Linked DNA regions of Homo sapiens. The protein of the gene in region 1 purifies or fractionates together with the protein of each later gene. This does not show direct contact. Each region holds a gene or a part of one and is shown in the gene's direction. Other genes may lie near its edges. The genes, in order: SOSTDC1, CEACAM5, SERPINB6, PIK3AP1, DRG1, BMP7 and TLN2.

The links.
Region 2: the proteins of SOSTDC1 (region 1) and CEACAM5 purify together in Homo sapiens (affinity purification with western blotting; one study listed by BioGRID). This does not show direct contact.
Region 3: the proteins of SOSTDC1 (region 1) and SERPINB6 purify together in Homo sapiens (affinity purification with mass spectrometry, with the first as the bait; one study listed by BioGRID). This does not show direct contact.
Region 4: the proteins of SOSTDC1 (region 1) and PIK3AP1 purify together in Homo sapiens (affinity purification with mass spectrometry, with the first as the bait; one study listed by BioGRID). This does not show direct contact.
Region 5: the proteins of SOSTDC1 (region 1) and DRG1 purify together in Homo sapiens (affinity purification with mass spectrometry, with the first as the bait; one study listed by BioGRID). This does not show direct contact.
Region 6: the proteins of SOSTDC1 (region 1) and BMP7 purify together in Homo sapiens (affinity purification with western blotting, with the first as the bait; one study listed by BioGRID). This does not show direct contact.
Region 7: the proteins of SOSTDC1 (region 1) and TLN2 purify together in Homo sapiens (affinity purification with mass spectrometry, with the first as the bait; one study listed by BioGRID). This does not show direct contact.

What each region holds. Positions count from the first base shown.
Region 1 is NC_000007.14:16,462,939-16,467,104, reverse strand, and holds the start of SOSTDC1 (sclerostin domain-containing protein 1 precursor), read left to right. Parts: upstream 1-1,366; 5' UTR 1,367-1,436; coding exon 1,437-1,641; intron 1,642-4,141; coding exon 4,142-4,166. UniProt on the Homo sapiens protein: May be involved in the onset of endometrial receptivity for implantation/sensitization for the decidual cell reaction Enhances Wnt signaling and inhibits TGF-beta signaling. Directly antagonizes activity of BMP2, BMP4, BMP6 and BMP7 in a dose-dependent manner.
Region 2 is NC_000019.10:41,711,626-41,715,125, forward strand, and holds part of CEACAM5 (cell adhesion molecule CEACAM5 isoform 1 preproprotein), read left to right. Parts: intron 1-3,345; coding exon 3,346-3,500. UniProt on the Homo sapiens protein: Cell surface glycoprotein that plays a role in cell adhesion, intracellular signaling and tumor progression. Mediates homophilic and heterophilic cell adhesion with other carcinoembryonic antigen-related cell adhesion molecules, such as CEACAM6.
Region 3 is NC_000006.12:2,958,068-2,961,567, reverse strand, and holds part of SERPINB6 (serpin B6), read left to right. Parts: exon of another isoform or gene 1-598; intron 599-2,225; coding exon of another isoform or gene 2,226-2,235; coding exon 2,236-2,400; intron 2,401-3,500.
Region 4 is NC_000010.11:96,714,015-96,717,514, reverse strand, and holds part of PIK3AP1 (phosphoinositide 3-kinase adapter protein 1), read left to right. Parts: intron 1-3,500. UniProt on the Homo sapiens protein: Signaling adapter that contributes to B-cell development by linking B-cell receptor (BCR) signaling to the phosphoinositide 3-kinase (PI3K)-Akt signaling pathway.
Region 5 is NC_000022.11:31,406,104-31,409,603, forward strand, and holds part of DRG1 (developmentally-regulated GTP-binding protein 1), read left to right. Parts: intron 1-3,500. UniProt on the Homo sapiens protein: Catalyzes the conversion of GTP to GDP through hydrolysis of the gamma-phosphate bond in GTP. Appears to have an intrinsic GTPase activity that is stimulated by ZC3H15/DFRP1 binding likely by increasing the affinity for the potassium ions.
Region 6 is NC_000020.11:57,225,142-57,228,641, reverse strand, and holds part of BMP7 (bone morphogenetic protein 7 preproprotein), read left to right. Parts: intron 1-220; coding exon 221-413; intron 414-3,500. UniProt on the Homo sapiens protein: Growth factor of the TGF-beta superfamily that plays important role in various biological processes, including embryogenesis, hematopoiesis, neurogenesis and skeletal morphogenesis.
Region 7 is NC_000015.10:62,740,050-62,743,549, forward strand, and holds part of TLN2 (talin-2), read left to right. Parts: intron 1-580; coding exon 581-720; intron 721-3,500. UniProt on the Homo sapiens protein: As a major component of focal adhesion plaques that links integrin to the actin cytoskeleton, may play an important role in cell adhesion. Recruits PIP5K1C to focal adhesion plaques and strongly activates its kinase activity.

The sequences.
Region 1 (4,166 bases):
TTTATAGTGAGATAGATGAATAGATAATTAGTGGTTAAATTGGGGGTGATTTTACCCTGTAGGGGTCATTTGGCAATGTTTGGAGTTATTTTTGTTACCAACTAGGGGGGTGCTACTGGCGTCTAGTCGTTAGAAGCCAGGGATGCTGATAAACACACAGGATGGTCCCCCAATAATAAAGAACTGTCTCTTCCAAAATGCCAGTAGCGCTGCTATGGAGAAATTCAGGTAGGCAGACATATAGGCAAATGGCAGTTACAAGGGACAAAAGCTTATACAGAAAAGAGATACAAAATTAGGTGATTTAGGTAACCACACAAAGGACAAAAATGGATTTATAATTGAAAAGATGATTCAGAATAGTTATTCCAATTGAGATGTCCCATGATGAAATAGAATTTTATGATTGTTTTAAAGGGATCATCAGTGGCCTATAATTAATTAATGGAACACGTGTTCTGGGTGCCGGTAAAGTAATTCAGAAAAATAGGTTTCTTACTTGGGCAGCAGAGTCAAAGGAAGTAATGAGCAAAATATTTAGTAAATACGAGTAGAATCTGTGTTCTGAAAAAATCTAGAAAAAATTATTTTGAATCCGCTAAAAAGTCTGTCACAAATGGCTTTATGTAAAACAATGCTATGGATATTAATGCTTGTGACACATTTTTAAGACAAAAATGAGTATTACTTACTTTAATGTAGACAGAACTATGCTCATTATTCTCCACACAAAACCCCTGGCAATAATTTACCTAGCAGCACAGTAGTTCTTGTAGATCAAAGCTGCATTATTTAAGCATGTCCAGGGGGCAGGTTTTAGCTCTGTGCCTTTTACTTTAAGGAAAAAAAAATATTGGTTTGCTTCTTGAGAGAAAGCAATGTTTAGCTAACTAGGTGCTTCATGCAAGTCCTGCAATATTTAAACTCACATGAATTCCTCCTGTTATCTGGGAAGAACTCCCTTTCTGACCCAAATACTCTAAAATCTGAGGAAAGTACAGAACAACTGTGGGAAAGCCAGTCTCTTCAAATGAACAGCGATGTATTTTCGTTTAAATTAAACCCGAATGTTAACTAGATTCAGGAAAGGAAATGGCAGAGGAGAGTCTGTCGTTGATATAGAATACGCCTGCCTGCGTCGGCTCACAGACAAGTGATGAAGTCCAACTCTGAAATTTCAGGCAATTTGTATACCAAGCTCCTCCTTTTCTGCAGTCTTCTTTTCCATTGGTAAAATTCTTTTGCAGGGTCATGTAGGGATCCCACCCCTTCTCTGTGTTTTCACTCTGAAGCTCTACACAACTTTACACCTGAATGAACGCCAAACCTCTATGGATATATAAAGGGAAGCTTGAGGAGGAATTTCACAGTTACAGTGCAGAAGCAGAAGCAAAAGAATTAACCAGCTCTTCAGTCAAGCAAATCCTCTACTCACCATGCTTCCTCCTGCCATTCATTTCTATCTCCTTCCCCTTGCATGCATCCTAATGAAAAGCTGTTTGGCTTTTAAAAATGATGCCACAGAAATCCTTTATTCACATGTGGTTAAACCTGTTCCAGCACACCCCAGCAGCAACAGCACGTTGAATCAAGCCAGAAATGGAGGCAGGCATTTCAGTAACACTGGACTGGATCGGAACAGTAAGTGTGTTTTACTTGTACAGTTTTTTTTTTTCTTTTCTGGTAGCATTAGCTCACATTCCTGTAGAATTGTTTTATTGGTAACTAACCTGAACCGTATATATGTTGTGAAACAATTTGGGAGTAATCTGCTGCATGTGCAGGTTGGCATTCTTCCCTAGGTAGTGATTTTAAAGTTAACCTAACTAAAACAGTGGTTTAATAGTGCAAGCACAGACTGAAGTTTTATCAAACATCCACAAAGAAAACATTTCCAGGAATTAAACTATTGTTTTGTCAAAATCATGCAAAATGACCATTTTAAAAAGTATTGTTTTAGATAGCTCAAGTTCCGGTTGTTTTGTCAATTTATTTCAGGGCATATGCAATTTTGGTAAAGTGTATAAACGTAACTAATATATATTATTAGTTACCATCCACAAATAAATATAGGGAATCACAAGGGAAAAAAGGAAGCTTCCAGGAGAAAAAATTTGTTTACATTGGATTTCTAAAATATGTCTAGTGAGATAGTCAAAAGTTTTGATGATGCTCAATGTAAAAGAGGGATAAACTAAAAATGTTGGAGAATCACATTTTTCTAAAATAATTCCTTGTTGTCCCATTCAAAATTTAGATAATTGTGTATTTCTGTGACAGACTGGGGACATTTTTGTAACTTAAGAGATGTAAAACAACAGCTTAGTTGACACACTAATTGACCACTGGTTAGGGGGATTCAAATTACCCCTAACTTTTGTTTCTATCTTTTCCTTTAGAAGAGGCCATATGCTAATAATCAGGTTTTAAGAGAGAGAGAGAGAGAGAGAGAAACACTGCGCAGGAAATCTTACACAAATCTTTTGCCTCTCCTTCTTCACTCCATTCAACTACGAAAAGTAGTTTTGACTTTTGAAAAGTCAAAGCAAATTTGACTGTTAATGTCTAAGAAAGCTAGGATGTTTTAACTTTCACGAAGCTGGTTGCTTTTAAGTACACAGGACATATCTGATTATTATTAGATTACTGAGCAATGTGGTGGGTATTCGTTGTCAATGAACTGTCACTGCAAAAATGCCAAATCTGTATATACACAGGAACAGAAAGCTTGACGAGACAAAATTATTTCTGGCTATTTCCAGGTGCATTCCTGAGGCAGCTGCAGGAAGGTGAGCTGGAGGCAGAATCAGGCACGCTGAGCACACTGTCCAACCAAACAATTTACGCTTTACATTTTAATCCCACAATTCTAGATTTCTATGCATGCATGTCTATATACATAAGTTTTTCCACAACTATCACGTTCCCCTTAAGCTATATCTCTTACCTCAGAAGTACTAGCATACAGAGATGAAGTGAAACTCCTGATTCAGTTCTACTTCGACGTATCTTTCAGTACTTTTTGTGGAACCACTTCAGTGTCCCTTATCATTTTTATTTGTAAAATGTCAGCAGCCTGTACTTTTAAACATCCTTTTTTTTTTTCCTGGTTGGCAAGCCTTGATTTCTTTTCAAGCTTGTTATAGGCAATTCTCCTCAAGTTTAGATAACAAAGCAAGGGTAAGGAAAACTTAAAATATTTAAAGATTAATTTTTGCTTTAATTACATAAGGCATGTAACAAGAAACAGCCAATTAGAGAACATACCTATCAAATCCAAATAACTAAAACAAAAAGTTTGCCATGACCAATATTCAGGAAATGAACACCGTGGTTCCTTTTGCAGTTGTAAATCAGACATGTTAGGCATTTTTCTGCCATAAAATTCATGGAAATGTAGCCAAGTTGTTATGGCAACCATACGTTCCTGATTTAGGGGCTTTTATATTCTTTGAGTCTTGAGTTGTAGTGGCATTTTACATTTCAAACATGTTACTGTTTGTATTTTTTAAAAGATAGTTTGGGAATTTATGTTTAAAACATAGTTATTAAGTTTGATATGCAAAATGTCAGATGTTGTACACATGTATGTCTGAGTCTCTGCAGCTAAAGTCTATAATTGAAATAAAATATTACCGAGAGCATATGCATTATACACAATATTTAAATGGCTATCACATTTTTTCTCAACAGATTTTTAAAAAGCCTAATTAAAAACACTTGCAGACATTAGCCAATATGACCCTTGAGAAAGAGAATATTAAAGTATACTCTTAACTCATTGAATAATGAATATTTACACATAAATGGAAGAGCTGCTAACCCCTTATTGGAGAGTCAGACTAAGGAAATTGGATTTTCAAACACTCTAATAAGCAATTAGCTAATGTTATATATAAAAACAATCAGGCCTACATTTTTTTTCCCAAAAAAGTTATAGCCATGTAAACTGATGATTTTCATGAAAGTGTCCCTATACTATCCAGACAGATTTTTTTCACTGTGAAAATAAAGTAGGTGCTCACTTTCTATTTGGCAATTTGCTATCATTTGCCTATTATTTTTGTCATTGCAGATCACTTTTTAAAAGGTCTTCATTTGCATTTTTTCTCTGATGCACATTCTTTTTTGTTTCCTGCAGCTCGGGTTCAAGTGGGTTGCCGGGA
Region 2 (3,500 bases), on another chromosome or scaffold:
TGGTCCTGGTCGGGACAGCCAAGGGACTCCTAGTCCTGGGGTCTCCGAGGTCACTATACCCCGCATGGCTCATTGCCATGGGCATTTCTGACTTTCTTCTATTCCTCCATGTTCTTCGTCTTCCTCCCTCTTCATTCCAGCTGAGATGCCCATCCCTGAACATCTTCCTCCACTCTTAGGCCTTCCCCAGACACTCCCTTGAACAAGGCTGGCTGTCCTGTTTTCTTGCCGCTCACACTGTGTCCTGGCCCACTTCCCAGGCAATAGGGAAGGCACAGAAATCACAGGCAATAGGGAAGGCACAGATGGAGCCCCTGCCAGGCTCCATCACAAGCCAATGTCAACAGGTCACCAGGAGAATGAGCTTCCGCTGTGTTCCTGCCCAGGGCTCTTTACTTCCATGAGGCCAACACACGGAACAGGCAGCAGGACGGGAATGAGCGACTCCTCCATCCACTCCCTACACTGACTCACCAGGGGGTCAGAGGCAGAAGGACAGGTCTGCAGTCCCCAAAGCCCGCATGCTTATTTCACTCACTTCACTACCCACTCCATCTTCATCCTGGTGTGGGGCTCACATCCTCCAGTGGATCCTGGGACCTCCCCCAGGTGGAGCTGGCCAGGCAGGTGCTGTCTGATAGGTTTGCTGCCCATTCCACATACACCTGTGTCCTCATGATGATGCCATTGTCATAAGGTGGAGTCCCTTGGACTGAGAAGTGAACCAGCCACTGGCGTCTCACTTAGACTCTACCCAGTTACAAAAACTTAAACTCTAGTTGTGTTTTCTGAGGTTGATAGGAGAGGAAGAAAACCTTTCACATGCCTGTTTTGAGGCTTCTCCTCTTTTTGCCTAACTCTGCACAGGAACTAGGGGCAGGGAGCGCTTTCTAAATTTACTAACATCACACACATTGCTTCTCCTAACTTGGCATCATTTCTCCCTTTATGTAATTGACACACCTAAGAGTTCCTCTCTGACCGGTTCTGTCCTCTTAACAGGTCTCACATCCCTCTCTCTGTTCAGGGAGTCACTGATTTCAAACCACTTTCAGCATCTTCCTTTGAGCATAATGTGATCACTTTGGAATTCAGAGCAGACCTAAACCTTAGCATAATATTAAAAGAAGTACTACTTCCAGCAATTGATCTTAGATCTTTAGGCCATTGATAAGAATTTCCACTTATGGAAAAAATTTAATGTTTCCCCCAAATGTCTTTCACTTTTTTAACTATAGTCAGAAAATAACATGAGATCTAAACTCCTGACAAATTTTTAAGGGCAAATTATAGTACTACAGATTGAGTATCCCAAATCCTAAAATCCAAAATCTGAAATGCTCCAAAATCCAACATTTTTTGACCACTGACATGATTCTCAAAAGAAATGCTCACTGAAGGCCGGGCACGGTGGCTCATGCCTGTAATCCCAGCACTTCGGGAGGCCAAGGCGGGAAGATCACAAAGTCAAGAGATCAAGACCATCCTGGCCAACATGGTGAAACCCCGTCTCTACTAAAAATACAAAAATTAGCTGGGCGTGGTGGCATGCACCTACAGTCTCAGCTACTTTGGAGGCTGAGGCAGGAGAATCGCTTGAACCCGGGAGGTGGAGGTTGCAGTGAGCTGAGATCGTGCCACTGCACTCCAGCCTGGCAACAGAGCGAGACTCCATCTCAAAAAAAAGAAAAAGAAAGAAAAGAAAAGAAAAAAGAAAGGCTCACTGGAGCACTTTGGATTCCGTATTTTCAGATTTGGGGTGCTAAACTGGTAAGTATATTGCAAATATTCAAAACTCAAAAACAGTCAGAAATCCAAAACACTTTTAGTCCTAAGCCTTACACATAAGACATACTCAATCTGTATGAACTATAGGCACCAAGCTGAACAGCAGATCCCTAGAACCTCCTCATCCTGCATAACTGAAACTGCAGACCCATGAACAACTCTCCATTCCCCCAGTTCCCAGGCTTTGACAACCACCATTCTACTCTCTGATTCCACAAGTGTGACTACTCTAGGGACTTCATATAAGTGGAATCCTACAGTATCTGCCCTGTGAGTGGCTTATTTCATTTAGCATAATGTCCAATGGGAGAAAATAATTGCAAAACTTCTTCTCAAAGTTCTGTCTCATAACTGTCAAACACACATGGTCCTTGAGGGCCAGATTTCCAGCAGTTCATGCTCCCCCTTTTCCACCAGTCAGTTCTGCATTTGCAAATGTCCACATGTATTTATGGAGAGATCCACAGCATCCTCGCCTGCCCTCTGCAAGGGGAGAAGGGACATTAAAGACCAAAGACAGGCCGGGTGCAGTGGCTCATGCTTGTAATCCCAGCACTTTGGGAGGCCAAGGTGGGCAGAACACCTGAGGTCAGAAGTTCAAGACCAGCCTGACCAATATGGTGAAACCCCATCTCTACTAAAAATACAAAATTTAGCTGGGTGTGGTGGTGGGCGCCTGTAGTCCCAGCTACTCGGGAGGCTGAGACAGGAGAATCGCTTGAACCCGGGAGGCAGAGGTTGCCATGAGCCGAGATCGTGCCTGGCCAACACAGCAAGACTCCATCTCAAAAAACAAACAAACAAACAAAGACCAAAGACAAAGAACATACATATGGTTCTGCTGTTAAATCCGGGCAGCTCCTGCCTGTCACCTGAAGTTCTAGATCATTCCCTGGACTCCACTCTATCTTTAGGGGTCTCTGGCTCAAGTCAGTCATCATCAAACACCTGGGAAAAACTGCCCCACCTTGTGCCTCCACTGCCTAACGACTGAGCTGACCTCCAGGCTTGCCTCTGGTGTCCCCTGTGTTATTTCTACTGAAACATCCAGTCCCAGGCCAGGCTGCACAATATGTACAGGGTTTAAGGACAATGGGAAGACCCATCACTATCCATTTCTAGGATGTCCTTGCAAAGGGAAACCACAGAAAAAATATACCTAGGGAAACAAAGTAGGACTGAAGGTGGAAGGGACCCAGCACTTGAATGTTCCAGGTGAGGACCCTACAGTGGGCCAAGTAGTCAACTGGTCAGGGAGGGACCAGGAGAGGCACCAGGAGCTGTGACCTCCCCCCCAGTCCTGTGTCTGTTCACAGCCCAATGCTGCTGCTTAATTCACACTTGAGAAAGTCTGTGCTTCCCCCACACCGAGCAGGCAGCCTCGCAGTCTCTGAGATCTCAGATCATCGTGCATCTGTCTTGTGACACATGCACCCACCGTGGGTTTTTAAGGGCTCAGGTGGGCTGAGAGGTGGAAGGTGCCAACTCTGATTGAAAGATGCCTGTGAGGAATCAAAGGTGCCACACAGGGCAATCTTCTCTCTGTTATCTGCACAGCGGAGCTGCCCAAGCCCTCCATCTCCAGCAACAACTCCAAACCCGTGGAGGACAAGGATGCTGTGGCCTTCACCTGTGAACCTGAGACTCAGGACGCAACCTACCTGTGGTGGGTAAACAATCAGAGCCTCCCGGTCAGTCCCAGGCTGCAGCTG
Region 3 (3,500 bases), on another chromosome or scaffold:
CCTAGAAGTTTCCCTGTTTTACCAATTGTTTCTCTTCAAGTTGATAAGCGGGCAGTTCTTGTGATCTAGAATCCAAAGAACCAAAAATAGGCCCAATTTTGCTTCAGTTCCGTGTAATGGCTACTTTTGTTTATACTGGTGTTCCCAGGGCTCTGCGGAATCCTGGATTTATTTATGTATCATCAAAGACTCCCTTATATTCAGAAGAATTTTAGTAATATGTACTTTCTATTGTCCTTTTATTAGAAATTAGTAATCTTAAAATATGTTTGGAAAGGCTTGGCAAGCCAGGAGTGCCCAGTGCCCCAAGTATTCTGTGTAATGAATAAAGAAGAGTTTGAAAACAAAATATTTAAACAAGCACAGCAAACAAGCTTTATCAGGTGTATGAGTTATTGTCTTGGTTTCCCGTGGCTGCTGTAACAAATGACCATGGATTCGTGGCTAAACTGCACATGTTTATTTTCTCAGAGTTCTGAGGTTGGAGGTTGGAAATGGGTTCCGCAGGGCCAGGCTCCTCCAGAGGATCCTCCTTGCCTTTCCAGCTACTGCAGCTGTGGTCCTTGCGTTTCTTGGCTTGAGGCCCTTCATCTTCAAGGCCAGTGGAGTGGCATTTTGCTTTATTCTTTGCATTGCTTTTTCCCGTGAGATCTCCCCCTCCCTCCCTCTTAGAAGGATACCTGTGATTACATTTAGGGTCAACTGGAACAATCCAGGATAATCTCCCATCTCAAGAGCCTGAATCTAATCGTGCTGCACAGTCCCTTTTGCCATGTAAGGGGCATTCACAGGTCCCAGGGATTATGACCCAGGTATCTTTGGAGCACTTGCTCAGCCAACCCCAGCTCCAAATGTAAAGGCATGCACAGTGGAGAGCCGCTTAATTCAGCATCTCCTCACAGGGCCTCCAGTAGGCACCTCCTTCCCTCTCCCATCTGCTCCAGGAAATGTCTGCTCCAGCTTCTCCCCTTCCTTGTTCCGTGGGTTCCCACTCACTGCTCAAGTGAGTCACTGGGACTGTCTTAGAATGCTGGCATTCTCTGACTGGGACATATTCATTTGGTAAACATCTGAGAACTGTGTCAGAGCAGGCAGGCCCCGCATCCCTGCATTCCTGCATCCCCTCCTTCCCAGCCTGACTGCCTGTGGGGCCCTTAGCTGCCCCTTGTCCTCTCACCTGATTCTGCAGATTCTTCTTCTTGAGCAGCAGCTCAGAAAGCGCATCCGCCCTGCGTTTCAAGCCCAGCTACTTCTTAGCTTCACTTCCGTCAACTTCACCTTCCCTGTAGTGCAGTGGGGCATTGATGGTAGGTCTCTCTAAGGGCTTGGTGGACTTTAACATGTGATTCTGTGATTCCGACTTGCCTGAAGATACCCCAGCTCCCCCCTCCCGACTATCCAGCTGCATTCCTGCTCTGGACCCTGCTGGGGCTGCCACACCCACTGCACGGCAGGGCTAGAGAGATGTGCAGCCTGACCCTACCCCTGAGCCTGTCTGTGAAGGTGGAGATGGGCATGCACCCACAGCCCATGAGGCAAGGTGGTGTCCTGAGTGTGCTGTGAGTTCAGGCGCAGGAAGGCCTGGCTTGTTGCAGCAGGATGTCCCCAAGCGTGGTCCAAAATTGGGGCTTTGCCACCTGCAGGGATTTCCTAGAAGGAGATCCAAGGGTCAGGAGGCATTTGAAAGGCTTTCACGCATCTTTGTATGTGGCTTGATTGATCCTTTTTTAAGGCTCTTGCTACCCAGAAATGGGATTCTCTCTCTCATTATAAAAACATTTGGCCATCTTTTCTTGTGTAACTGTCAGTGAATGTATCATTTTGAATATTTTTCAAATTAAAACAGTACATTTAAGCCCGCAAAACACACCAAAGAATACAAACATAGAAGCAAAAGCCAGTGCCCCTTCTGTAATTCCACCCCAAGGAAGAGACTCCAGGAAAGGGTGCCTCCTTCCCACTTTCTCCACGTGCGGGCAGGCGTGCAGGGAGGAGTCCTCACAAAACAGGGCGGCGTTTCACATAGAACTCTTTCATTTTCCACACTTAACATTAGAAACACACAAAATAATGTGGAGGGTCCTAAAAAGAAACAGCCAGAGTTCTGTGTGTGTTTCTGCTTGCCCACTGAACCACAGCATCGGCGGTGACTGTCGGTAAGGCGCGTGAGATGCAGTCGCGTGGAAGCTGTGCTTAAGTGATACTGATTTTAAATCTTGTTCCAGGTCTGCCATCATGGATGTTCTCGCAGAAGCAAATGGCACCTTTGCCTTAAACCTTTTGAAAACGCTGGGTAAAGACAACTCGAAGAATGTGTTTTTCTCACCCATGAGCATGTCCTGTGCCCTGGCCATGGTCTACATGGGGGCAAAGGGAAACACCGCTGCACAGATGGCCCAGGTACAGCTTCAGGGCAGCCATGGTGCTATTAACTGTCAAGTTAGCTGGTCCTCCTTATTCCAAATCCCAAAGGGATCGCTCGAGACGGATGACTGTGCAGTATTGCAGGGTGTGGGTGGCGAGTTTACAGGGAAGGGCATGCCACCCATGCTGGAGCACCCTGGGGACAACACCCTGACTGACCCCCTGGGGTGGAGAGGGGGCGCCCGATTCAGAGGAATGAATGATTTCATCATCACATGGCTTAGCTTGTTCGTGAGTTTGTAGATGGTTGTAAAGTCACAAGGTTCAGGTTGAGTCCTGTGATGATCTTTGGGTACTGTCATCTGCTTGTTGGTTGTTAGGAGTCTTTATTTTCTCATTTACGCGTAAAGCCTTCTTAGAATGGCATTTGTCAGCTAAACATGTTTTCAGTAGCGTTCTGGTTATTTGTTGTTGTGTAACCAGCTCTCCCAGCTTAGCAGCTTTCCTGGTTGTTGAATCTGGGTGGATTGAGTGGTGCTTCTGCACCACTTGGCACTGGGTGGGTCCCTTGTGGGCTGCGTCAGCGGGGGCTCAGCGGGGCGCTGGGCGTCTTCTCCGTGGCCTTCTCCGCTGGGGCCTTCCACATGCTTCCTTCAGCAGCGTTGCCTGGGCTTCCGTAGGCCTGGCGGCTGGGTTCTGAGAGGAAGTGCTCGCAGAAGACAGGCTTGAAACAAGTACCCATCACGTCCCCGCCTGTGTCCTGCTTGCCAAGGCCCCACTGCCAAAGGCAGAGGCATCTCCGCGCCTGAGAGGGGTTGAGAGAGGGTGCGCACACCACAGATGTAGCTGGTCGGGGCCACCCGTGACTGCTGTGGTCTGCCCTCTGGACCTGGTGGTTCCCTGGGAGCCTGAGATCCAGGTGTAGGCAGGGTTGGTTTCTCCTGCAGCCTTTCTCCTCGGCTTGTAGACACTGTTTTCTCCCTGTGTCCTCACATGGTCATCTCTCTGTGTGTGTCTGTGTCCTCATCTCCTCTTTTTATAAGGACATGAGTCCTATTGGATTAAAGCCCAACCTAATGGCCTTATGTTACCTTAATCACCCCTGTAAAGGCCCTCTCTGCAAATGCAGTTCCATC
Region 4 (3,500 bases), on another chromosome or scaffold:
CCTAAATTTGAACAACTTCTGGGGTGGGAAGCTCCTGATATGATTGACCACATCTCTCCTTATCCTGGTCACCTTCCCTATCTCTCATCCCTCTTCAAATATGGTGTTCAGATTCAAACATGGGGCTCCAGGATGGATGAATGGGGTGCCAGAGTCACCTATAGGCTGAAGAAATGGTCTGGGCTGGGTGGTTTGAGAAGCTTTCTGGCACTTCCTGTCTGTACTTCTCTCCAGTGAGTTTTTTTTTTTTTTTTTTTGAGACGGAGTCTCACTCTGTCACCCAGGCTGGAGTGCAGTGACACGATCTTGGCTCACTGCAAACTCTGCCTCCCAGGTTGAAGTGATTCTCGTGCCTCAGCCTCCCGAGTAGCTGGGATTACAGGTGCCCACCACCATACTCAGCTAATTTTTGTATTTTTAGTAGAGACAGGGTTTCACCATGCCAGGCTGGTCTTGAACTCCTGGCCTCAAGTGATCTGCCCTCCTTAGCCTCCCAAAGTGCTGGGATTACAGGTGTGAGCCACCACGCTCGGCCCTCCATTGGGCTCTGAATCCTGCAAAGGCACCTCTCTTTCAGCCCCAGCTTTTCACCCCATGGACTCCCTGCTGCTACAGCCTCCCCTTCCTCTGCTGTGATCCATTTCTTTCTCCTTCTGTAGCCAAACCTGTTCTTGACGTTTTACGAGGACAAAGAAAGACCCTTCCTCATTTCTTTCTAGGGCTTGTAGACTCCTTGTTAGCTCATGTGTTTCATTTCTCTTAATAAATGAACAAGCAAAAAAAAAGAGAGATGTGATTGAGGATAAGTGGAAAAGCTACTTATGGTTAAAGGAAGAGGATTATTGCTGAAGAAAGGAGTTTCCCCCATATAAGGCAGAGTTGCTGACAAAGCATTTAGTCCTATATTGTTACCCAGCACATCAGAAAGGGACTGGAACTTTCACTTTGGACTTTTTAAAAACTTCCCCTTCTTTCAGTTTCCCAGCACAGCAATATTCGGGAAGGTGATAGATTTCATTGTCCTCATTTACATCAAGGCAAATTTGCCTAGACTTAGTAATTGGTCTAAGTCACACCACAGGTTAGTGACCAAATAGGTTGTAATGTTAACTAGTCTGAGGCAGTAATTAATTTCTCCTCAAATACTTTCACTCAAAGGGAATTGAATTTAACACTAGAACCCCAGGAGTGAGACATTGTGCATTTATTTATTTATTTATTTATTTATTTAATGAGACAGGGTCTCACTCTGTCATCCAGGCTGGAGGGCAGTGGTACGACCTGGGCTCACTGCAACCTCTGCCTCCCAGGTTCAAACAATTCTCATGGCTCAGCCTCCTGAGTAGCTGGGACTACAGGCGCATGCCACCACGCCTGGCTAATTTTTGTATTTTTTTGTAGAGTTGGAGTTTCACTATGTTGGCCAGGCTGGCCTCGAACTCCTGGCGTCAAGTGATCCGCCTGCATTGGCCTCCCAAAGTGCTGGTATTACAGATGTGAGCCACTGTTCCTGGCCAGGAATGAGACATTTTGAATAGCTGTTCTGTTTGTTTATTTGTTTGTTTTTTAAATATAGGAGATTTAAGTGCTCTTTATTTCAATTGTACTTTTTTTTTTTTTTCTTTGAAATGGAGTCTCGCTCTGTTGCCCAGGCTGGAGTGCAGTGGCATGATCTCAGCTCACTGCAAGCTCCGCCTCCCGGGTTCATGCCATTCTCCTGCCTCAGCCTCCTGAGTAGCTGGGACTACAGGTGCCCGCCACAATTCCCGGCTAATTTTTTGTATTTTTAGTAGAGACGGGTTTTCACCATGTTAGCCAGGATGGTCTCGATCTCCTGACCTCGTGATCCACCCGCCTTGGCCTCCCAGAGTGCTAGGATTACAGGCATGAGCCACCGCGCCCAGCCTCAATGATACTTTTAAATAAAATTTTATTTTAGAACAATTTTAGATTTCCAGAAATACTACAAAGATAGTACAGAGAGTTCTCATATAGACCACATCCAGTTTCACCTATTATTGACATCTTACATTAGTGTGGTTTTTGTGACAATTAGTTAACTGATACTGATAAATTATTAATAACTAAAAGTTCAGGCTTTCCTCAGATTTCCTTAGTTTTTATGTAATGTCCTTCTTCTGTTCCAGGAGCCCATCTCAGGTACTACGTTATATTTGGTAGTCATGTCTCCCTAGGCCCTTCAAGGCTGTGATTTTCTCTGATTTTCCTTGTTTTTGATGGCTTTGACAGTCTTGAGGAGTACTGGTCAGTTATTTTGTAGAATAGCCCTCAGTCGGGATTTGTATGATATTTTTTCCCATAATTAGACCAGGGTGCTGGGTTTCAGGGAGGAAGACCACAGAGGTAAAGTGCCAGTCTCGGCCCATGGTATTCAGGGCACACACTCTCAACATGATTTGTGACTGTCAATGCTGACCTTGATCACTGGGTTTCTCTATTGTAAATTTACTCTTTTTTTTTTCTCCCTTTCCACACTGTGCTCTTTGGAAAGAACTCACTTGACACAGCCAAACACTAAGTTCTCTGTATAAGGAGTTACACTCTACCTCCTTGAGGGTGGAGTTATCTATCTACATAAATTATTCAGAATTGTTATGCATGGGAGATTTGTCTTTTTTCCCCAGTGTATTTATTCAATTATTTATTTTGTATCAGTATGGACTCCTGTATATTTCTTTTATGCTTTGGGTTATAATTCAATATTATTTTATTTATTTTGTTGCTCAAATGGTTCCAGCTTTTGCCACTGGGCGCTTTGAGTTGACTCGTGTTCCTTTGACATATGCCTGTCATTGAATTTTTGTTTGAGCATTACTTTCTGGCACTACAAGATGCTCCAGGCTCATATTGAATATTTCCTGCCCCAGGAAGTATTTAATCCTAGACTCATTCCTAGAATCCATCATTTCACTAAGGAATCCTGGATCCTTTTATTGGAGAATGGTATGAGAAACCCATGGCACTAGATGTATTTTATTAACTGTATTTTCTAAACTATATTCTGTATTTCCTTGACTTTTTAAATTGGGTGCAACTTAGAGATTAAGAGCATGGACTTTGGAGTCAGATCCCTGCTCTGGCACTGACTAACAATGTGCACTTGGGCAGCAGCAGCAGTAAATCTTCAACGAGTTTTAATGTCTGTGTCTGTAAAATGGGGCTTTTTGATAACATATACTTTGTGGATTGTTCTGAGGATTAAATGAGAGAATGTACATGAGATGCTTAGCAGAGTGACTAACACATGATCAGTGCTCAGGAAACAGAGCTGAATCACGATTTAAACTTTCCTTGATGACTTGGAGTCTTTTTTTTTTTTGAGACGGAGTTTCGCTGTTATTACCCAGGCTGGAGTGCAATGGCACGATCTCAGCTCACTGCAACCTCCGCCTCCCGGGTTCAAGTGATTCTTCTGTCTCAGCCTCCCGAATAGCTGGAATTACAGACGCATGCCACCATGCCCGGCTAATTTTTGTATT
Region 5 (3,500 bases), on another chromosome or scaffold:
TGATTCTCCTGCCTCAGCCTCCTGAGTAGCTGGGACTATAGGTATGTGCCACCATGCCCGACTAATTTTTGTATTTTTAGTAGAGACGGAGTTTCACTATGTTGGCCAGGCTGGTCTTGAACTCCTGACCTCATGATCTGCCTGCCTCGACCTCCCAAAATGTTGGGATTACAGGTGTGAGCCACTGCGCTTGGCCACTTACCTGCTTTTTGTTACTGTAGATTAGTTTACATGTTAAGAACTTTACATAAACAAAAACCACATATAAATATAAATGCACTTTCTTTTCCATAGGCTTCTTTCATTCTGCATAATTTTGCATTCATGTTGGTGAGCTTTTAATTCTCTCTCGTGGTCTTTTTTTCTCTCATTTTGTATAAACTTTTTGAGCTTGGCCAACATGTTGAAACCCTGTCTCTACTAAAAATAAAAAATTAGCCAGGCATCTTTAATACCAGCTCCTAGGGAGGTTGAGGCAGGAGAATTGCTTGAACCTGGGAGGCAGATGTTGCAGTGAGCCGAGATCGTGTTACTGCACTCCAGCCTGGGCGACAGAATGAGACCCTGTCCCGGAAAAAAAAAAAAAAAGTTGCAAACATAGTACAAAGAGTTCTCGTATCACTTGCCTGCTTCTCCTGTTGTTAACATCTTACATAACCATAGAAAAATTATCAGAGATAGATGAACATTTCTGCAACAGTATTCACTAAACTATAGATCTTATTTTAATTTTTACCTGTTTTTTCCACCAGTGTCCTTTTTCTCTTCTAAAATTTTTATCTAGGATCATCCCATGATGCATTTAGCTATTTCTGTCTATTTGTTTGCCATCTGCAGTAGTCTCTGTCTTATCTTTTGTGACCTTGTCACTCTCAAAGAGTAATGATCAGTTATTTTGTATAATGTTCCTCAATTTGGGTTTGTGTGATGTTTTCTCTTGGTTAGACTTATTAGGTATTTTTGGCAAGAATACCACAGAAATGATACTGTCTTTCTCAGTGCCTCCTACCATGGGATTCATATTGTCAGTATGTCTTATTGGTGATATTGTCCTCCATCAATTGGTTATGGTTGTGTCTGTAGGGTTTCTCTAAAGTTACCTTTTTTTGGACAGTTAATATATATTTTAGGGGAGATACTTCAAGAAGATGCAAATCCTGTTTTTCCTCAAACTTTTGCCTGCTCATTTTCGCATCCATCTGTGGGTCTTGTCTGTAACAGTTATTATTGTACTTTTGCCTCATGGTAATTCTCCCTCGCTCTGTCACCCAGGCTGAATGCAGTGGCACGGGTACGATCATGGCTCACTGCAGCCTCGACCTCCTGGGTTCAAGTGATCCTCCCACCGTAGCCTTCCAAGTAGCTGGGACTATAGGCATGCACTACCATGCCTGACTAATTTTTTATTTTTTTGTAGAGACAGAGTCTCAATATGTTGTCCAGGCTGGTCTTGAACTCCTGCACACAAGCAGTCTACCTGCCTCAGCCTCCTGAGGTGCTGGGGTTATAGGCATGAGCCACTGTCCTGGGCCTGAGTATGTTCTTTTGTTTGTTTTATTTTTATTTTTTATTTTCATTTTTCTTTTTTTTTTTTTTGAGTACGTTCTTGAATGGAGAAGTTGAACTGTCTCGCACCTGCTAAATCAGTTTTCATTGCAGTTTATTTAATGCAAAGTATATTTCTGTAATTTCTTATATTCTTAGAGCAAAGCATATCTGATTTAAATTATGTTTTGGTCAGGCGTGGTGGTTCAAGCCTATAATCCCAGCACTTTGGGAGGCCGAGGTGAGCGGATCACCTGAGGTCAGGAGATCGAGACCAGCTTGGCCAATGTGGTGAAACCCTGTCTCTACTAAAAATACACAAAAAAAATTAGTGGGGCATGGTGGCGGGCACCTGTAATCCCAGCTACTCGGGAGGCTGAGGCAGGAGAATTACTTGAACCTGAGAGGCAGAGGTTGCAGTGAGCCGAGATCACACCACCGCACTCCAGCCTGGGTGATGGAGCGAGACTCCCCTTTTTTTCCTTCTTTTTTTTTTTTTTTTTTTTTTGAGATAGAGTCTTGCTTCATTGCCCAGGCTGGAGTGCAGTGGTGTGATCTCAGCTCACTGCAACCTCTGCCTCCTGGGTTCAAGCAATTCTCCTGCCTCAGCCTCCTGAGGGAGCTGGGATTACAGGTGCCCGCCACTACGCCCCACTAATTTTTTTGTGTATTTTTAGTAGAGACAGGGTTTCACCATGTTGGCCAAGCTGGTCTTGATCTCCTGACCTCAGATGATCCGCTCACCTTGGCCTCCCAAAGTACTGGGATTACAGGCTTGAGCCACCATGCCCAGCTGAGAATCCCTATGAAAAAGCAAGGCCAGACACTGTGTCTCATGCCTATAATCCCAGCACTTTGGGAGACTGACGCGAGCAGATCACTTGAGGTCAGGAGTTCGAGACCAGCCTGGCCAACATGGTGAAAACTTGTCTCTACTAAAAATACATAAAAAAAATTGGTGGGGCATGGTGGCGAGCACCTGTAATCCCAGCTGCTCAGGAGGCTGAGGTGCGAGAATCGCTTGAACCTGGGAGGCGGACATTGCAATGAACCAAGATTGCACCACTGCACTTCAGCCTGGGCGATAGAGCGAGACTCATTCTCAAAAAAAAAAAAAAAAAAAAAAAGATATTTTAAGTGATGTTTTAATAAGCTGCATCTGTTTTCAGTTCATTTATGTGTATAATTCAGTATTTGCCATACAGTAGACCCTTGGTATTTTTAGATTTTATATTTGTTTTAACTGTTTTGACTGATTCTTAAGGGCAGTCAAATTAATAGTTTATAATTTTGCTGAGATGTAAATTTGAATCACATGTGCTGTGGGGTTGGTTTTTCAATCACATCATTAGGTACACTGAGTTCTGTGAAGTTTTACCTTACTGCATTTCCTGGGCAGTTGAGCAGTCATTTTTATCTTTTTAAAATCTTTTAAAATTTATTTATTTATTTTTATTATTTTTTGAGATGGAGTCTTACTCTGTCGCCCAGGCTGGCATAATCTCGGCTCACTGCAACCTTCGACTGTCGGGTTCAAGCCATTCTTGTGCCTCAGCCTCCAGAGTAGCTGGGATTACAGGTGTGTGCCACCATACCCGGCTAATTTTTGTATTTTTTGTACAGACGGGGTTTCACCATGTTGGCTAGGATGGTCTCGAACTCCTGAGCTCAAGCAATCTGCCTGCTTCGGCCTCTGGGAAAGTGCTGTGGAATTATAGGTGTGAGTTACTGGGCCCAGCCTGAGCAGTCATTTTTTACTGGGGACATACATCAGAGTCACTTGTAAAGCCTTTTGAAGTACAGATCCCTATCTGTTGGCCCTTCAAATCAGAATCTGCAGGGATGGGTTTCAGCTCTCTACATTTTAAAAGTTTTTCCAGGTGATTCGGTTGTGCCTGCTTAAGAACGGCTACAAAAATTTTTGTGAGTTGGGGATTTGCAGAAATTGCAATATG
Region 6 (3,500 bases), on another chromosome or scaffold:
TGCTCTTGTCGTTCAGGATGACCATGGGGACCATGGGGTCTGAGCCTGTGACCCTCCAGTCTACAGTGTGTTGGTGAGGAAGGAGCAGTTGTCACTGGGGTCACTGGCAATGGGCATGCCTCCATCTAGCTTAGGCAAGATGCTTGGACTCAGAGCCAGAGAGTGAAACCCAGACACTAATGAGCTGTCGGTGTTGGTGTGTGTTCTCTTCCTCTTCCAGTGGAACATGACAAGGAATTCTTCCACCCACGCTACCACCATCGAGAGTTCCGGTTTGATCTTTCCAAGATCCCAGAAGGGGAAGCTGTCACGGCAGCCGAATTCCGGATCTACAAGGACTACATCCGGGAACGCTTCGACAATGAGACGTTCCGGATCAGCGTTTATCAGGTGCTCCAGGAGCACTTGGGCAGGTGGGTGCTATACGGGTATCTGGGAGAGGTGCTGAGTTTCCTCTGGGGGCAGAGGAAGAAGGTGGTGAGGGCCAGAGGATGGGTCAGATTGGCACAACCACGTGCCAGGCCCTGTACCAGATTATCCCTTCTAAAGAAGGTGTATGGTGTATGTCACTTCCTTAAAACCATGACCGACAACAAATTCAGGAATAGTAGAAGGCCAGGGAGCCCAGGGATGCGTGGTGCCTTGTGGGTTTTTATAGGCAGTCTAGATCTGGCTGGGTGCTAAGGGACATAGAAGAAAAGGGGAAGGGGAAGAAACATTTTTGAAGGGCTACCTCTCTCCCGTTTCTCACTCTGAAACCCAGTGCACGATGTCAGGCAACCAATTAAGGTGGCCATCTAAAATAAAATGTTAGGGGAAGAAAAAAACCCAAACCAAAAAAAACAGAGAACTCTTAGCCTTCCAAGAATCACTAGGTCAGAAACCAAACGTTTGTGTTGAAAGTCTTTAATTTATCGAGATCCATTAATTTCAAGGTCTTGTGAGAGGTAAGGAGGCTAAGAAAAAGGGCTGGGACATTTAGCAGGTGCATTCTATTCAGACAGTCCCGAGGCAGAAATGACCAAGGTCCTATTACTCAGTGGCTGGGTTGCTGGACCCCGCAGGCTGTCAGACATCTACCGTCCCCACTGGGCAGGGAAATTGATGGAAGAAAGGTGGTGTGGGCACCTCCTTGTGATGTGCAGGCTTAGCATCTTCAGCTAGAAAGGGGACTTGTTACCATAGACAGGGACAGAAGAACCATCACAGCTACGTTTGCCAAGCACTGCTATTTGGTGCTGGTGGGGGGTGGGGGTGGGGATGGTCATCTAAGTACCAAGAAAACAAAACTGTTCTTGAGCGTTTCCAGAGTGTTTTGCACTTGATATCTTGTTTCATATTCACAGTAGCCTTCAGAAGTGGTGGCTTATCTGTAAAATGAGGAGAACTAAAGTGACCTGAAGCCAAAGAATGAGGCTACCCAGAGAGAATGTGGCCACATTAGGACGTGAGCCCAGGTTTGCAAAGCTGGAGCCCATGCTTATGAAAGATATTTCTTTCCAAAATTTGTTTTTAGGCCGGGTGTGGTAGCTCACGCCTGTAATCCCAGCACTTTGGAAGGCCAAGGCAGGTGGATCATTTGAGGTCAGGAGTTTGAGACCAGCCTGGCCAACACGGTGAAACCCCGTCTCTACTAAAAATAGAAAAATTAGCCAGGCATGGTGGCGGGCGCCTGTAATCCCAGCTACTTGGGAGGCTGAGGCAGGAGAATTGCTTGAACCCAGGAGGAGAAGGTTGCAGTGAGCCGAGATGGTGCCACCGCACTCCAGCCTGGGTGACAGAGTGAGACTCTTTCTCAAAAAAAAAAAAAAAAAAAAGTTTTTGAGTAGGCAAGACATGTTCATGGTATAAAATCAAAAGGAAAGAAGAGGAACCACAGTGAAAATGAAGGCTTCCAGCCCCTGCTGAGGTGGTCCCTGATGCCAGTTTCTTGAGTCTCCTGAAATCAGCGAAGGAATCTGTGTTGCTGTTTTCACCTGTGGAACCCCACAGTGCACTCACTCCTGCCTCTGGCTTTCATCGTTGGATGATGAACCTTGGCAGCCCTTTCCAGGGGTTCACACGGGGTGCCCTCATCCTCTGAGTCACCTCACTGTTCCACGGCTTGGGTTGTGCTGTGTTTCACGTGTGCACGCTGGCTCCTCTGTTCTATGATGGATGGTGCCGCAGGGCAAGTACCCTCGCTGACATACGTGTTCATGTCTATCAGTCAGATAAAGTTCTAGAGATAGAATTGTGGGGTCAGAGGGCCCACACATGGGTGGCTTTGGTAGACACTGCTGAGCAGCTCTCCTGGGAGGTGACATCGACATCTACTCCCAGCAGCCAGGGAGCTTCTTGCTTAGGATGAAACCACAGCCTCTGTGTCCAGGCTGTTATCTGGATTCTCCACTCAGCTCCGGCAGCTCTTGGTCCTTCCTGCTGGCTTTGTGGGCACCTGGTCCCATCATGGTCTGTGGTGCCTCTGCTGTCTTGCCTGAGATCCATGGGGTGGATCCTGAGGGCTGCAGGGTTGGGCAGCAGGCCTGAGCACTGTGTTTGGAGGAGGGATGGGCGTTCCAGGCGTCCTCCCTGCCAGGCTGCCGGCAACAGGCAACTTGGGCTGGGGGTGCCCATTCTAGTGCTGGGGTCCTGCTCCTGGGGGCTTCTGGGCTGCTGAGTGACTGAGTCCCTCCTCAGCACAGGTACCTGCTGCATGCCATGCCTGAGGGCATCGACCAGAACGAACCAGACACGAGTCCCTGCCCTCTGGAAGCTCACGTTCCAGCAGAGGAGAGGACATGGCAGGTGGGAGCATTGAGCAAGGAAGGGAATAGGGTGAGAAGCAGTGGAGGGCAAGACGGAGCTGCTTTCTTTAGGTTTCTACATGTTCTTCCTGTGCCTCCTGCAGCAAAGCCTCCATTCTTCAGAAGTTAAATGGTTAAATTTAAAAAATATATTATTTATTCATTTTTCTGGACAGGTTGTTTTGTTTTTCAACCTAGAACCAAGATGCCCCTATGATGTAATTCCCCAGCTATTAAGAGCATGGATTCAAATCCTGCCACCAGCTACCCATGTGGCCTTGGGAAAGAGTCATCTCTCAGAGCCTCAGTTTTTCCCTCTGTAAAATGGGGATAATAATTGAATCTCCCTCCCAGAGTTGTGCTGTGGATGAAAGGGGGTGACATACTTACAACAGTGTCTTACACACAGGAAGTGCTCAATAAATGGTCACCTGCGTTAGTATCATCATCATCACAGCAGGAAGTGGAGCAAGACCTCTTTAGGAAGACAAGAGCCCTGGGTGGTGGCTGTGGCACTGCCTTCCCATGTAGGTCCACCGAGCCAATTCCCCTAATTCTGCAATCTTCCAGTAGGAACAAAGCCCTGAGCTTGCAAATGCTCTTCAAATCCCCCACGCTTCCTCCAGCTCGCCTGTTCAGAGATAGGCTTTTTCTTTGCATGTCCCCAACCTGGTTGCATGTCCCCAACCTGGGCCCGCACAGCTTCTTCCAGCT
Region 7 (3,500 bases), on another chromosome or scaffold:
TTTTTTTTTTTTTCTGCGCTCCTTTGACCTCCCTAAAAGAGATAACCAGGGTGTATCTTCTTCTAGTATCTACAAAGAATTGTTTCTCAGATGGCAACCGGGTGAGAAATGTGTGCTTTCCCGAGTCAGGAACTTCAGGGATGCAGTCAGCTCTGAATATCGAGACAGTGCTGGTCGTTTGTGCCAGGCCGAGATGTACAGCTCCTTGACAACTCCAGCATTGTTGAGCAAGATGCTGGAATCGCTGCCTGGTCTGTGCATTGGCTCACAGCTCGCTCACTCTCCTCCCACCCTGCTCCCCGCTTAATGCCTCTAGTTGTGAGAAAAGCACAGCTCTTGGCTGACCCACTTGGGGATGGATTTCTTTCCCTGTGGCATGCATCTTGATCTGAGCATCTGTTTGGAGAAGGGTAGACACTGGTCAGTGTCTCAACGAGTTAGGCATCTGCGGGCTAACTGGGTTTAATGTGATCTATACGGATAACCTGCCTGCATGTCAGGATGCTGCTCCTAGCTCTCTGAATGCCTCCTTCAAGAAATGGACAGGCCCTAATAGCTCCGGCTCCTTTTGACCTTCCAGACAAAAGAAGACCAGATCCAAGTGATAGGGAACCTCAAGAATATCTCGATGGCATCCAGCAAGCTGCTGTTAGCTGCCAAGTCTCTCTCTGTAGATCCAGGAGCTCCCAATGCGAAAAATCTCCTGGCTGCAGCTGCAAGGTAGGAGTGGGACACAATGTGCTTTCGTGTGTGGTTAGACAGTGTCATTGCAGTCTGAAGATGTGCCTGACATCCTCCCACTTTTGCTGAGCAAAAGAATTGGTGCTGTCCTTAGGTCATGGGAGGTGGAGCTGAGAGTGATGGACACTCTGATATTTTATAAAACTGGCTCATTTCCATGTTCTTTCCCCACTAAAAATATCTTCTGTCTTCTCATACAGCCTTTTCAGTAGAGACTTGTTTAGACGTAAGGTCCATTTTGACTTGTAAATGCAATGAATTAAACAGATTTTTTTTAAGTAGCATTATATCTTTCTGATTATAAAATAGTATATATGCTTCTTGAAACATCAGAAAATACTGAAAAGCGTAAAGATGAAAAGCAGTGCTCATCAAGTCATTCAGCAGACTTTTATTGAGCACTTAACCCTGTGCCTGGCATCAGTGTTAGATTGAATGTAACATGTTGTATCTGTCACATGGGGAAGGCTCCACTTTAAGATGAGTAGGGAGGCAGTGGGAATAAATTGTTTTTGGAAATATATTAAAACATGAGTGTGAATTTTGGATGATTTGGGTGTCCTTCTTTCCTGTTGGTTTCACCCAGGGAAGTGGATAAAACAGTATAGTTTCTGCTCCAGGGCCACAAGTTAGTTCAGTAACTAGTGGTTGAATGTGGTATGTGGAGCACTGCAGTGACAGCCCAGGGGGTTCTCGTATCAGCAGCCCCTCTTTCATTTTCCTGAACCCAGAGAGTAGGGTGGTCATGATTCTGTGGTGGTGCAGGCATGTTTTTTTAGCATTATTTACCATCATATTACGTATAAGAAAGCTGACAGTGGAGAGAGATTAAAAGCAGGACTATTAGGGGATAGAGAGTAATTGGAGGCCTTTTTATAATGTGCAGATTCGTGATTTTTGAAAAGCATAGCTTTGATTCTGCTTTCCTTTTTTTAACTTGGTTTTTTAAAATTTGCGCGTGTGTGTGTGTGTGTGTGTCTTTATGTCTCCCCTGGGAGATCATTGGCTGTTTTTTAAATTGTCGGCATCAAGAGACCTGAATTATATTCCAAGCTTTAATACTTGACTAACTCAGTCGCATTGGTCAGGTTGCTCAGCCTGTCTAAACTTTCCCATCTGCAAAGTGGGGGTATGAACTACATCATCCTTAAAGCTCTCCTTAGCTCTCAGCACATAAGATCTCATGGTACTCATGGTCCAAACATGTCCTTCCTCCCTCTTGGCTTGTAGTGGGGTGTGTGTGTGTGTGTGTGTGTGTGTGTGTGTGTGTGTGTGTGTGTGTGTGAAGGGTTAGACACTGTCAGAGCAGTTTGCTTGCAAACCCTTGAGTTTCTTCATTTATTCCTGGAAGGTACATTTTAACTGCAAACAATAGCTAGAGCCACTAGGGGACTGGAAAATTATCTTCCCATCTCATGCTTTGTTCGTGACTGTTCTAGTAAATAAGTGACCTCCCTTGATGGTGGGAGAGATGGGAGGTGGGGTTGGGGGTGATGTCTGTTCTGTTGAGCAGCTGTTTCTGATAGAAAACCCCCTCTTGATCGTTGCTTTTTTTCCTACAAAGGAGCCTTTGGATAAGGCAACTGACATTTCCAGGTATCAGAACTCAGATGTTTTTCATTATCTTCAATTTTTTGCATCATTTCAAAATTACAGTTTCCAGCTTGGAATGGCTTCACTCTCCTAAATTGTGGGAAGGAGGGGGAATGTATAAATTGCCCTTTTGAAAGCCAGATATAGAAGGAAACAGAGCCGGAAAGAATATTGCTGGTGTATGGCTCTGTGAATAGGTGCAGGCCCCCTGGTGGTGGCTTCGAAGAAAGGACATGGGGAAAAGGGGAAAAAAAAAAGCTTTCGTTGCCTTTCTGTCCTGGCTTTTAGCAGTTGACGGAGAATTCCCAGCCTGGTGATTTCATAGCCAGGTAAGCACTTAAAAATCATCACATGAAAATGATTGTCTTGGGATGGAACTGTTGCGAGAAAACGCTGGCACATTCTCCTTGGTTTTTTGGCACATTTTGGCAAGCTTCTGCTCCCTGGGGCTGTTTCTCAGCAGAGACTCCAGCCAGGTCAAGAGGGTCAGGCAGGCTCCTCTTGGGACACAAAGCTCTGCCAGGCTGGGGTTCATTCATTCATTGTCTTATTCATTCATGTCTTCATTACATAGATTTTCATCACAGGCCTGATGTGGGTGACGCCCAGTGCTGAGTGCACACTGTGAATAAGACAGGGCCTGTCTTATTATGTGTGTCTTTATATCTTGTGTATTTATAACCCTCATTATGTGGCCCTGGTGGAGTTAGGCAGGACTCACCACATGCTCCGCTCATTTCATCTGGGCCTAGAACAGTCCTGCATAAAAGTGCACAGGAAGCTGGGCAGAAGGGATCTGATCATCATAGTCTCAGTCCTCAGTCCTCTGTCCTCCTTGTTCTTGAGACTGTCAGGTCCTGCCTGTCCTTCCTGTGTGTATCCTCAAAGTCCCCAGAAATGCCACTGCGGGGACCCAGGCCTGGACCAACTCAGCCCTGTCCCACTCCTGTGTTAACAGTCTCAAACCCCTTATTATTTGTGGTCTCTGTGGTCCTTCTTGCTCTGGGAAGAAAAGGTTTGCTTCTGGAGAAAAAAGTAGAGGATGTCTTTTTCCTCTGTTCTTAATTCTGCTTCCGAGCCTGGGTACGTTTTTGGGACCCTACCTATCCCCTTGGTTTTGGATGCCTAGGGGAGAGGAAGTCATTTGCTATTTAGTGCCTGGTTTG